3 linked regions of the Homo sapiens genome follow. The protein of the gene in region 1 interacts with the protein of each later gene in a pairwise test. Each region holds a gene or a part of one and is shown on either strand. Other genes may lie near its edges.

Region 1 (3,703 bases):
ACCATGTTGGCCAGGCTGTCTCGAAATCCTGACCTTGTGATCTGCCCACCTCAGCCTCCCAAAGTGCTGAGATTACAGGTGTGAGCCATCGAGCCCAGCAAATTCCCTTCTTTAAAAAAAAAATCCTAATTTCTTGTATTTTTACCTGGCCCTTAAAAATGCAGGCAAAATAAACAAATAAACAAACACCCAAGACTAATGTCAAATAAAAAACTAAAAAAAGACATATGCAACACAAAGATTTTTTTAAAGCCTCTATGAATCAATTTAACAATAACAAAAAAAGTACACACAACCCAAAAGAAAAATAAACAAGAAAATCAACAGTTCACAAATAATCCAGATGACCAATAAGCATAAAGAAAGCTACTCAGCCTTACTGATAATTAAGGAAACATAAATCGCTAAAATATGATGCCATTTTCATCTGTCAAATAGGGAAAAATTAAAAAGATTAATAGTACTAAAATGGACAAAGGTGAGCTGAGAACAGCCTCCCATTCACTATTAGTCAGGGTATAAATTAGTTTAGCATTTTTGTGAGGTAATCTGCACTATGCTTCAAAATCACATATGTACACATGCTTTGACCTAGCAATTTTACTTCTCAAAGTATATTTTAGCGCAAGATAATGTTTAAGGACTTCCACTGCAATGATCTTTAAAACAGTAAACTTTAAAACAGAACAACCCACACATCCATTATTAGAACCTGGTTAAATAAATTATGATATGCCCACCTATTAAAATACTCTGCAGTAGTGAAAAGGTACGAGGTACAGCTTAGAAAGATTCCTAAGATATATTAAGTGAACAAAAGTTGAAGAACAGCATGTATAATACATCCTATTTATTTATTTATTTATTTGAGTCAAAGTTTCGTTCTTGTTGCCCAGGTTGGAGTGCAGTGGTGCGATCTCAACTCACTGCAACCTCCCCTACTGGGTTCAAGTGATTCTCCTGCCTCAGCCTCCCAAGTAGCTGGGATTACAGGCGTCCACCACACCTTGCTATTTTTTTTTTTTTCGTATTTTTAGTAGAGATGAGGTTTCACCATGTTGGCCAGGCTGGTCTCAAACTCCTGATCTCAGGTGATCTGCCTGCCTCAGCCTCCCACAGTGCTGGGATTAGAGGCGTGAGCCACCACGCCCAGCTCATCCCATTTATTTTGAAGAAAAAAAGATATATGAATGTGGAGGCATATTTGTATGGTATATGCATGTAAGTTTTCTTAAAGGATCCAAAAGAAGCTGTTAACTGTGGTCACTTCTGGGAAACAAAAAGCAAGAAAGTGAGGAAGTACATTTTGTTACACTCTCTGAATTACAATTTTTAAAGAATAAAATATGTAACATATTATAATAATACTTAAGTTTATAAATAAAAACTTCGATCATCTCAAATTTTGAAATTTACTTTATTCTCAAACATACCAGATAAAAATGTCATTTCCCCCTACTTAGCAGCAACAACTAAACCTATATTCTTTACCACTGTTACATTCAAAGAACCATATAAATGTGTTTTCTACACCTAAATTGTCTAGCCACCAGGCGGCTATTTTCCTCTATTCTCATGGTACAAAAGCCTCCTCTGGCCTGCTTGCTACATGGCCATACCTCCCAGTCAACTGGTTTAAAGATGCTTTTGCAAGTTCTCATCTTCTCTTTCTGCCCCCAGCCAACCATTCTAGCTCTAGGCCTACTGAACATTCATTCCTAACGAAATTCACAAAAGACATAAATTAATGCTACCCAACTGCAACAGGTCCTCTGTCAGTTGCCTGACAGTTCCTTTATTTATCCCTGATACCTCCTCAGCACTTATTGCAAAATGTCATGTAAATGAGTAATATTTACTGAGCATTTACCACATGCCAGACACTAAGGACTCTCTTATTCAATAGATATTTAATTAGCCTCCATGATAGGCAGCCCTGATACTTGGAAGATAATAGTGAGCAAAAACTTGCCTGCTCTGCACTTACTGTTTAGTGTGGATGATAGACATTAATCAAAGAATCACAGAAATATAAAATTACAACAGTAATATGAAGAAATAAATCATGCTATGAGACTATAAACTAGTGTACATGACAATCTGAGGGAAGACAGAAAGCTTCCTCAAGAAAGCACTCGATGACAGAGATGAATTAAGCAGACAAAAACTGTAGTGCGGGCAGAGAGAGTTCTCACAACTCTACGACTGGGCACTAATATTAGCTTCACTTTACAGATGGCACAACAGAAACAGGTCACAGGGCTGGTAAGTGGTAAAGTTCGGCAGAATGGAACTCAAATCGAATGGAGGAGGAACATCCCTCACAAATCCCATCAGTGGATTTGTGTGGGATGCTCTCTGGACAAAATCTTTAATACAACATATAAGGTTTGTTCCTCCCTGAAAATCTATTCCTCTAACCCTTCCAGCCTTAACTCCCATCTTTACCCTATTCCCCAACATCACACTCAACTTCTGTTCCTGTCACTACTCCACGTGACTAGAATCTCCGATTTCCTTAGCAACATTCAGCAGGCCTGGAGCTACCGAACATGGGGCATTAGCAAGTGGCCACAGAGGAAAGAGGACTGACAAAAGCATCTTTAAAACAGCTAACTGGGAGATGTGACCATGAAGGAAGGGAATTGAGGTCCTGTCATAGTCCTTTCCCTCTACTTGGAATACCCGTGTTCCTCCGTTTTGCATTGCTATGCAGGAATACCTGAGGCTGGGTAATTTATAAAGAAAAGAGGTTAGATTTGGCTCCCAGTTCTGCAGGCTACACAAGAAGCATAGTGTCAGCATCTGCTTTTGGTGAGATAAAGGGGGAGCAGGCATGTGACAGGGCAGGAGAAGTGGCAAGAGAAAGAGGAGCTTCCATGTTCTTTTAAACAACCGGCTCTAGGAGTGAACTAATAGAGTGAGAACTCAACTCATTACCTCAAGGACAAACCAAGACATTCAATCTGCCTCCATGACCCAAATATCTCCCACTAGGCCTACCTCCAACACTGGAAGTGACATTTCAACAAGAGATTTGGAGGAGACACATACCCAAATCATATCAACCTCCTCTTCATAACAGTCTCCATTTTCTTGGCCTAGTGAAACTTATCAATCCTTTAAAACCCACCTCAAATGCTCCCTCCTCTATAAAGGTGTCCATACCTCCCAAACAAAAGTGGTCTCTTCTTCCTCTGCTCCCAAGGTTCTCTGAATATAACTGTAATACAGTTATCACACTGGTGTGCAACTATCTGCTTGACTTAACATTATCACATATCTATCAATAACACTCCTTAAGTTCTTGATAAATCCAAAGGTGTCAATCTTCATTTCACCTGATCCATCAGCTGCACCTGACAAAACTGAACATACTACTCTACTGTAAATTCTACAACACCAGACTCAAAATTGTCCTTGTCCCTCACTGGCTGCTCAGTCTGTCTCATTTGGTGGTTATTCCTCATTTTCCCAACTTGTTAAAATGCCTAAGGACTCAGGCCTTGTGCCCCTTCTCTTTTCTGTCTACATTTACTCCTTTAACGACTGTCTCCGGTCTCACAACTTTAAATACCATCTGTTCACTGACAATTCCCAAACGTCTGTTTCCAGCAATGACCACTCTGAAGTCCAGAATGAACATATTCAACTGCCTACTCAACATCTCCACTTAGATGACTAACAGACATCAAAAACTTAT
Region 2 (3,703 bases), on another chromosome or scaffold:
CATTTACTAGGAAAACATGCCGAAGGTTTCTTTGGTGCAAATCTGGTCCTCACACACCCTTCTAGAAACTAGCAAACACTGTAATCAATGTCTGCATTTATCAAATGCCTGTTTGTACCCAGAACTGTGTTGGGTACAATAGAGAGTTATTTAAGCAAACATGGTCTCTGACTTCTAGATGCCGACACCCAATATAAATAAAAACAATAAATCTGTCCAAAGGATTACCAAACTAACTGAACAAACAAAATAGTCAAAAGCATTTACCTTTTACAAATGCAGTGGTGTAATAACTGAAGGTTAAGTCATGGGAGATGACTCTCTAAACAGGGTGGGTCCCTAATGGAACAGTTACCTTGTTAAAGCTGACTTCCAAGGGGGAGGTCAGGTTTTAAGAAAAGGTTCAGGATCTGGCTACTGGGCTGGAGAAAAATAAGCCAGTCAGGGAAAAGGGTGCAGCCTGGGAGATGACTGAGAGATAGAAATTTAACTGCAGGAAGAAAGAAAAATTACCAACGGCCCAGAAAAAGTCAGGGAAAATAAGTCAAGCAGGTACATCTTCCTCAACCAGTTTTATTCATGCCCCTTTCTGATAAGTATAAAAAGCTCAGGCTGGGCACAGTGGCTCATATCTCTATTCCCAGCACATTGGGAGGCCAAGGCAGGAGGATCGCTTGAGGCCAGGAATTTGAGACCAGTCTGGGCAACATAGCCAGACCCTGCCTCTCCAAACAATGCAAAAATTAGCTGGGCATGGCACATGCCTGTAGTCCCAGCTACTCAGGAGGCTAAGGTGGGAGGATCACCTGAGCCCAGGAGGTCGAGGCAGCAGTAAGCCACAATCATACCACTGTACTCCAGCCTGGGCAACAGAGCAAGACCCTGTCTCAAAAAATAATAATCAATAATAAAAGGCTTACACTCTCTTTTAATGTTATTTGAAATTTCAAAAGAAACTACATATCCTAACCAACACCATACCAAAGCAATAGTGGTTTCAGAATTTGTTTTCCAAGTAACACAAACCACCCTCTTCCCCCAGAGCTAAACACCACCCAGGTGGGTGGTAGCAACTGTCAACAAGGATGTCACTCTATCACTGAATTCTTAAAGAAGGGAAGAGTTGAATCCTAGATCTACATGGGACCAGACAACTGGCAGAATCAGAAAGTGTTATGGCCTAAGGTGACTAAAATAGACCACAGCCCTAGCAAGAATTTATAACAATTACCTGATTAAAATTGTGGAAGGAGAATTCTTTGTAGATGGCATCTCTCTCACTTAATTCCGACCATCCTGCTGCTTTAAGGTCAAGTATAGCTTGGTTCCTCTCCTCTGCAGTCAACCTGTGAGTACCTGATGACTATGAAGAGAACACATTTCATATCTGAAAATGTACAAGTTTACTCAAACTCAAACTTATGGCTCCTTACCTTAAGCAGAGATGTAGAAAAGTCTGAAAGGCAACAAATTCTAACCATCTTTCATTCCTTTGTTCTCTTAAAGAGACCAAAGCAAGGCTAGCTCTGTGCAAAATAAGCTGCCTCCATGGCATGTCACCTCTGGCTCCCTTACTGCTGCCTCAAACTTCACAATTCAGCTTCTCTGGTTGGTTGGTTGGTTGTTTCGAGACAGGGTCTCGCTCTGTCGCCCAGGCTGGAGCGTAGTGGTGCAATCACAGCTCACTGCAACCTCCGCCTCCTGGGCTCAAATGATCCTCCCACCTCAGCCTCCCAAGTAGCTGGGACTACAGGTGCACACCACCACACCCAACTAATTTTTTGTATTTTTGGTAGAGAGGGATTTTCACCATGTTGCTCAGGCTGGCCTTGAATTCCTGAGCTCAAGTGATCTGCCCACCTGGACCTCCCAAAGTGCTGGAATTACAGGCATGAGTGACTGCGCCCGGCCCTTCTGTGGTTTATTACAGATACAACAAAGATTGACTATTACCACCGGCCATCTTGGACACTGCAGAATTCTAGGACTTGTGGCAAGTCTATTGGCAGGACCAGAATTAAAATTCAAGGCTCCAAACTCCTGGTCTATTGCTCTTTGGATGGCCCTACATCACCTCAGTAGCCTTCACTACTCTCTGTTATATCTCTAATAAGCCAGAGAAGCTGAACTGTGACGTTTGAGGCAGCAGTAAGGGGGCCAGAGGGAACATACCATAGAGACAGCTTATTTTGTACAGAGCCAGCCTTGTTTTGGTCTGTCTTTTGAGAACAAAGGAATGAAAGATGGTTTTAACTATTTGGAATTACCATCTCCTGTCACATCTAATGAAAACCAATCCCCGGATGGGGAAAAACAAATGCACATTTACATAGGATTTTATCTAACTTCTGGGGGTCCACAGATCCTCTGGACTACAGGTAAAAAGCCCTGGCCTCAGTGGGGTGGGTTTATGAAGCCCTCTTCTCAGAGCACCAGTCAGACAAACTCTCTCCATAGTTTGGCCAGAGTACTGCCCAGTCCAAAGCACTTGTGTGCACTGTCTGGCCTGTTTCTACGCATCCTGGGGATGACATTCACAAAGCCAGGTTCTGTTGGTTAACAGGCCCACACTTCCCATGCTATTGGTTTTTTAACTGAAATAACTTTAAACATCAGGGCCAGAGAGAAGATATGGACACTTGACTAGAAGTCAGGAAAGCAGGGTTCTCATTCCAGGCAATACTTCTTGCCTTACCTACTTGCAGAGTTACTGTAGGCTCAGGTGAGAGAGAGGCTGTCACCCAGAAAGATGAACATTAGTGAAGGCTCCTCATCAAAGGGCAACTGTGGGCTAAGCTGCATTCCCTGGATTCTCTGCCATTAAGCTGCAACTCACTCCCACTTCAGAAATCCCAAAATCATTTATCACTAATATTAAGAGAGGAAAAAGATTTTACCTTTAGACAACTTTTTCTATGAAGAAAAAAATACTAATAAATCAGTTTTCTAGTTTTTCTTCTTTGCTAGGTCGGCTATTCTTCCCCACAACTAACAAAAGGAAAGAATGAGAGTACCTTTTTTTTTTTTTTTTTTGAGACCAAGTCTTGCTCTGTCACCCAGGCTGGAGTGCAGTGGTGTGATCTCAGCTCACTGCAACCTCTGCCTCCCAGGTTCAAGCGACTCTTCTGCCTCAGCCTCCTGAGTAGCTGTGATTACAGGTGCATGCCACCACGCCCAGCTAACATTTTGTATTTTTAGTAGAGACAGGGTTTCACATGTTGGCTAGGCTAGTTGCAAACTCCTGACCTCGAGGGATCCGCCCACCTTAGCCTCCCAAAGTGCTGGGATTACAGGCGTGAGCCACTGTGCCCAGCAGAGAATACTTTTTAATTAAACAAAAATATGCAAAAGCTTGTTGTTAAAAACCACTTACTAGATTAGTTGGGCATGGTGGCACACGCCTGTAATCCCAGCCATCCAGCCTGGGCAACAGAGTGAAACTCTGTCTCAAAAAAAAAAAAAAAAACATTTACTAGGGCTGGGCACAGTGGCTCACATCTGTAATCCTGGCACTTTGGGAAGCTGAGGTGGGAGGATCATTTTAGGCCAGGAGTTGAAGACTAGCCTGGGCAACGCAATGAGACCTCGTCTCTACAAAAAAATTTTAAAAAATAGCCGGGTGTGGTGGACCATGTCCATAGTCTCAGCTACTTGGGAGGCTGAGGTGGGAGGATCACTTGAGACCAGATGACTGAGGCTGCAG
Region 3 (3,910 bases), on another chromosome or scaffold:
TACAGAAGAGTTTCTCTGAAAAGATGGTAATTTTTTAAATAGTTTCTCAAATGCATACATTACCTCTCAAAGTTTATTACAAACACCCTCTTCTCCCTATTAAAAATGTGTCTTTGTATCAATTGTGGTACGCTGAAATTAAAAACCCATTATTGTCATGTTGATTAATTTCTAGGCTATCCAGACCTAGACTTGTTTTTTCTTTCTCAGTAGAAGATATGGGTGGTGGTGTCATTTAGCTGTATAATATTGAGCAAGTCAATCATCCATATGGACTCAGATTCTTCATTTGAAAATGATAATCTTAGACTCAAGATGACTTCCAAAAAATATCTTGCTGGTCTAAGGTGCTATCATTATATGACTCGATTATGCATATTTGAAAATAAAGCAATAAAGTGGCAAAGAGAATCTGGGTGGATGTCAGAGGGTGAGTTCTGGTGATGGCAGAATTGCAGACAACTACAATTTTCCCAGTATATTTCATTATTTGACCACTTTATAAATTCCTTTTCATTTCTACTCCATTCATCTTTAAAATACCCAAGAAACAACAAAAAAGGCATATTCAACTGAAGAAATTTATTTACTTTTTTCTAGGTACATAGATGACATAATTATAGACAAGTTTTGATACATAGGAAAACCCTTCCGTCCACCTCTCTTTATGCTAAATGAATCATCACAATAATTTTTACAATTTTTAAAACAATACACAGCTTTCTTGGGCTGAAGCAATTGCAAGAACATATTGGTACTGGTATATTACAGCTACTTACAATGTTTTTAAGAACAGCAATGGAGAAAAATAAGTTATTTAAATATTGATTTCATATACAGAAAGTGCAATGTTGTTAGTTGTTATATAACTTGCTCGACAGTTTCTTTTCTCTATCAATTTTAAATCAAGATAACTTGGACTCAGACTATTATATTTTTTTCTGAAAATAATACAGTACACACATGGCAGCAGTGACTTGGCAAGTTGACCTTTTTTGCTGCAGTTATGAAAGCAAACTTTACTATGTCAGGAACTGATTTCCAATAGATTAGTAATTTCCAATTTCACCCATACCTGGGGGTTCAGGACAGAGAAAAGGGCCTCTGACTAAGGCAAGGCCATGAAACAATATCTTAGTTATCTGGGTACATAAATAGTACTAGCTGGAGCTGACTGCATTTCCTTCCAGACAGCTTTGAAGTGAAAATCATACACAATGTTATGTGTAGCTACCTGAGCCGAACTGCCTTTCCAGGTTTCTTTTGTGCTTTCCAAAGACAACAATTTTCACCATTACTCAAAATTCTGTACCAAATGCAACTGATTAAAACTGGATATTCCTGAAGCCTACCACCTGTTCACTAATGTCCACAGGCAGCCCCAATCCACCTCAGTCAAACGTCACACCCAAACATTCAGCTTTTCTCAGACCAAATTAAATGTTTACAGAAAAAAAAAAGACCAAACGCTAAAGATATTTTTAAAATATTTAAACAACACAATAAAGTAAAAACAACCTCAGACCCCTCAGACTAGACATTCCCACTGAAAATTCTTTGTGGTCCCTGAATTTGATTTTCTATGCAAAGGCATTGATTTCCAAAGAAGTGTGATAAAAATGTGGTTTGGCATTCTCAAAAACTCCAGAAAGTTCCCTCTTCTGCTGCGACTTTCACTGAAATGAAAATCCTTCATGGAGAACGAATTAAAACTTGGAAATTCACATGAGATTTCTCTCGCTCCTTTGTTATCTCATCTCTTACACAACTTTTGTGTGGTTTTTTGCTCAGCTTAAACAATGACAGGATCTGTCCAAATGTCAAGCCGAGGTATTTTGAGAGCAGGAAGAGAAGAAGCCTGTCTACAGCACCCACATCCACCACAGCACGTGAAATGCATTGAACGCTTTAGCTATACAAGAACCCTGCAGCTTCATTACATTGCAAATAGGCTAGGCCACAACCCGAGAGGACAAACAAACATGAGCTGTTTTTAAGAGTTCAACAGAAATTTGGCAGCTTTAGCTTTTTATTCTACATTTCCACAACTTCTTCACATGGCATCTTATAGAAGATGAAAATTAATTATTAAAGAAACATGCATTATTTTTTAAAAATGCATACTAATGCATGAAAAAAATACATCACCTGAGAATGTCTTTTTCCTCAGAAACATGGATCCAGACATAAGCAATATGCTAAAGATGGCTTTCTAATTAATTTATGAAATCACTTCCCCTCCAACCCAAGGGAAATTATTTGTTTTAATAAGTAGATGAAATATTATAAAATGTTCAATCAAGGGCTTGTGGTCAAGGTGTTTCTATTATAAATGATTGACCTTTATATTTTAGATGATTGCATTTGATGCTTAAAATAGTGTTCATGATAAGAATGTAAAGGAAAATCATTTTGTAAGCAATGGAAACCATAATAGTTTACTTGTTTAAATTTACTGTTTGCTAGAAAACCAGACACTAGACTAAAAGAGGACAGAGGCCAGGTGCGGTGGCTCACACCTGTAATCCCAGCACTTTGGGAGGCTGAGGCGGGTGGACCACCTGAGGTCAGGAGTTGAGTTTGAGACCAGCCTGGCCAACATGGTGAAACCCTGTCTCTACTAATAATACAAAAATTAGCTGGGCGTGGTGGTGGGTGCCTATAATCCCAGCTACTCGGGAGGCTAAGGCAGGAGAATCACTTGAACCTGGGAGACTGAGGTTGCAGTGAGCCAAGATCGTGCCATTGCACTCCAGCCTGGGTGACAAGAGCGAAACTCCATTTCAAAAAAAAAAAAGGATAGAATGTGCTGAAATCAGTTGTAAAACAATTTAAAGTAGCAAATACTTAACACATGGCTAATGAGATTTGTCTGGTTCCATAGTGAACCTTTGTTTAAATTAAAAGAATTATCTAAATAAAAAAAGAAGGATAATAATAGTATTAGTTGTAATACTGAAAAGTCTTTTAGAAAACATCTTATACATGACTTCCCTTATTAAGGACATCTTTCTGAAATATGCAGCCTCACAGTGACCTTTTGCAAACATGATCCGTTAACTGAGGACTGAATTTTGGGATGGACATGGTCAGGATTCCAAGTCAATACTGCAGCGCGACGATCCACACAGTAACGATACTAAACTGGTTAAAACCAAAAGCAGTCACTATGAATACAGACACACACGCGCACGCACGCACGCACACACATGATATTTGTGAATTTCAGATAGCTTTTTACTAGATTTGTAGTTAGCTTAAAAACCAAAAACCAACATGAAGTGTGTGGCTGATGAATACCTCTACAAAATAAGCCATGTTACAATGAGACGATTAGAAAAGCTCACTTTTGCTGGAAACATCCCAGAGAGGTTCGATGTCTGCCTAAGCTGAAGATGTGGAAGTATGGTTACAGGGTTGTGGACACTAGTTAGATAACTGCTTAAAAGCTTATATTAAGGCAAATAAAAGCTGATTGCTAGAAAGCAATTATGAAAATGTCTCTTGTTTATCTAAAGAAGAACAGGACTTTTTTTTTTTTTTTTTCCTGGTGCAGCCAGATGTTCTAACTTTTGAACAAATGAGCGTGGTCAGTAATGTACAATAACTCTTGAGTCTGTTACTTTGGCCTAGCTAAGCCCATCTGGCCCTCGGGCATCCTGCAAGATGACAGACAGAAGAGCAAGGGCACTATCAGAAATGGAACAGGCTGCCCCCTACTCCTCCCAGCCTCTACCAGTACACAGAGACAGACTGGAGATAGAGCATTCGCAGCCAGTTGGCATCTTGGTTCTTTTGTCTTCTGAAAATAAAAATAAGTGCTTGTCTTGTCTTTGGGGGTCAAAGAGAACCGCACTAATTTATTTCCTCGAGGGGGCTTTTCTGGAGGAGAGGATCCTCAGTCCTGTGC

What was found. The genes of interacting proteins can lie anywhere in the genome.
Region 2: the proteins of C1D (region 1) and PCBD2 interact in a two-hybrid assay, tested with the Homo sapiens proteins (one large-scale study listed by BioGRID and IntAct).
Region 3: the proteins of C1D (region 1) and SASH1 interact in a two-hybrid assay, tested with the Homo sapiens proteins (one large-scale study listed by BioGRID).

Annotation. Positions count from the first base shown.
Region 1 is NC_000002.12:68,056,302-68,060,004, forward strand, and holds part of C1D (nuclear nucleic acid-binding protein C1D), read right to left. Parts: intron 1-3,703. UniProt on the Homo sapiens protein: Plays a role in the recruitment of the RNA exosome complex to pre-rRNA to mediate the 3'-5' end processing of the 5.8S rRNA; this function may include MPHOSPH6.
Region 2 is NC_000005.10:134,907,995-134,911,697, reverse strand, and holds part of PCBD2 (pterin-4-alpha-carbinolamine dehydratase 2), read right to left. Parts: intron 1,364-3,703; coding exon 1,232-1,363; intron 1-1,231.
Region 3 is NC_000006.12:148,548,702-148,552,611, reverse strand, and holds the end of SASH1 (SAM and SH3 domain-containing protein 1), read right to left. Parts: 3' UTR 568-3,910; downstream 1-567. UniProt on the Homo sapiens protein: Is a positive regulator of NF-kappa-B signaling downstream of TLR4 activation. It acts as a scaffold molecule to assemble a molecular complex that includes TRAF6, MAP3K7, CHUK and IKBKB, thereby facilitating NF-kappa-B signaling activation.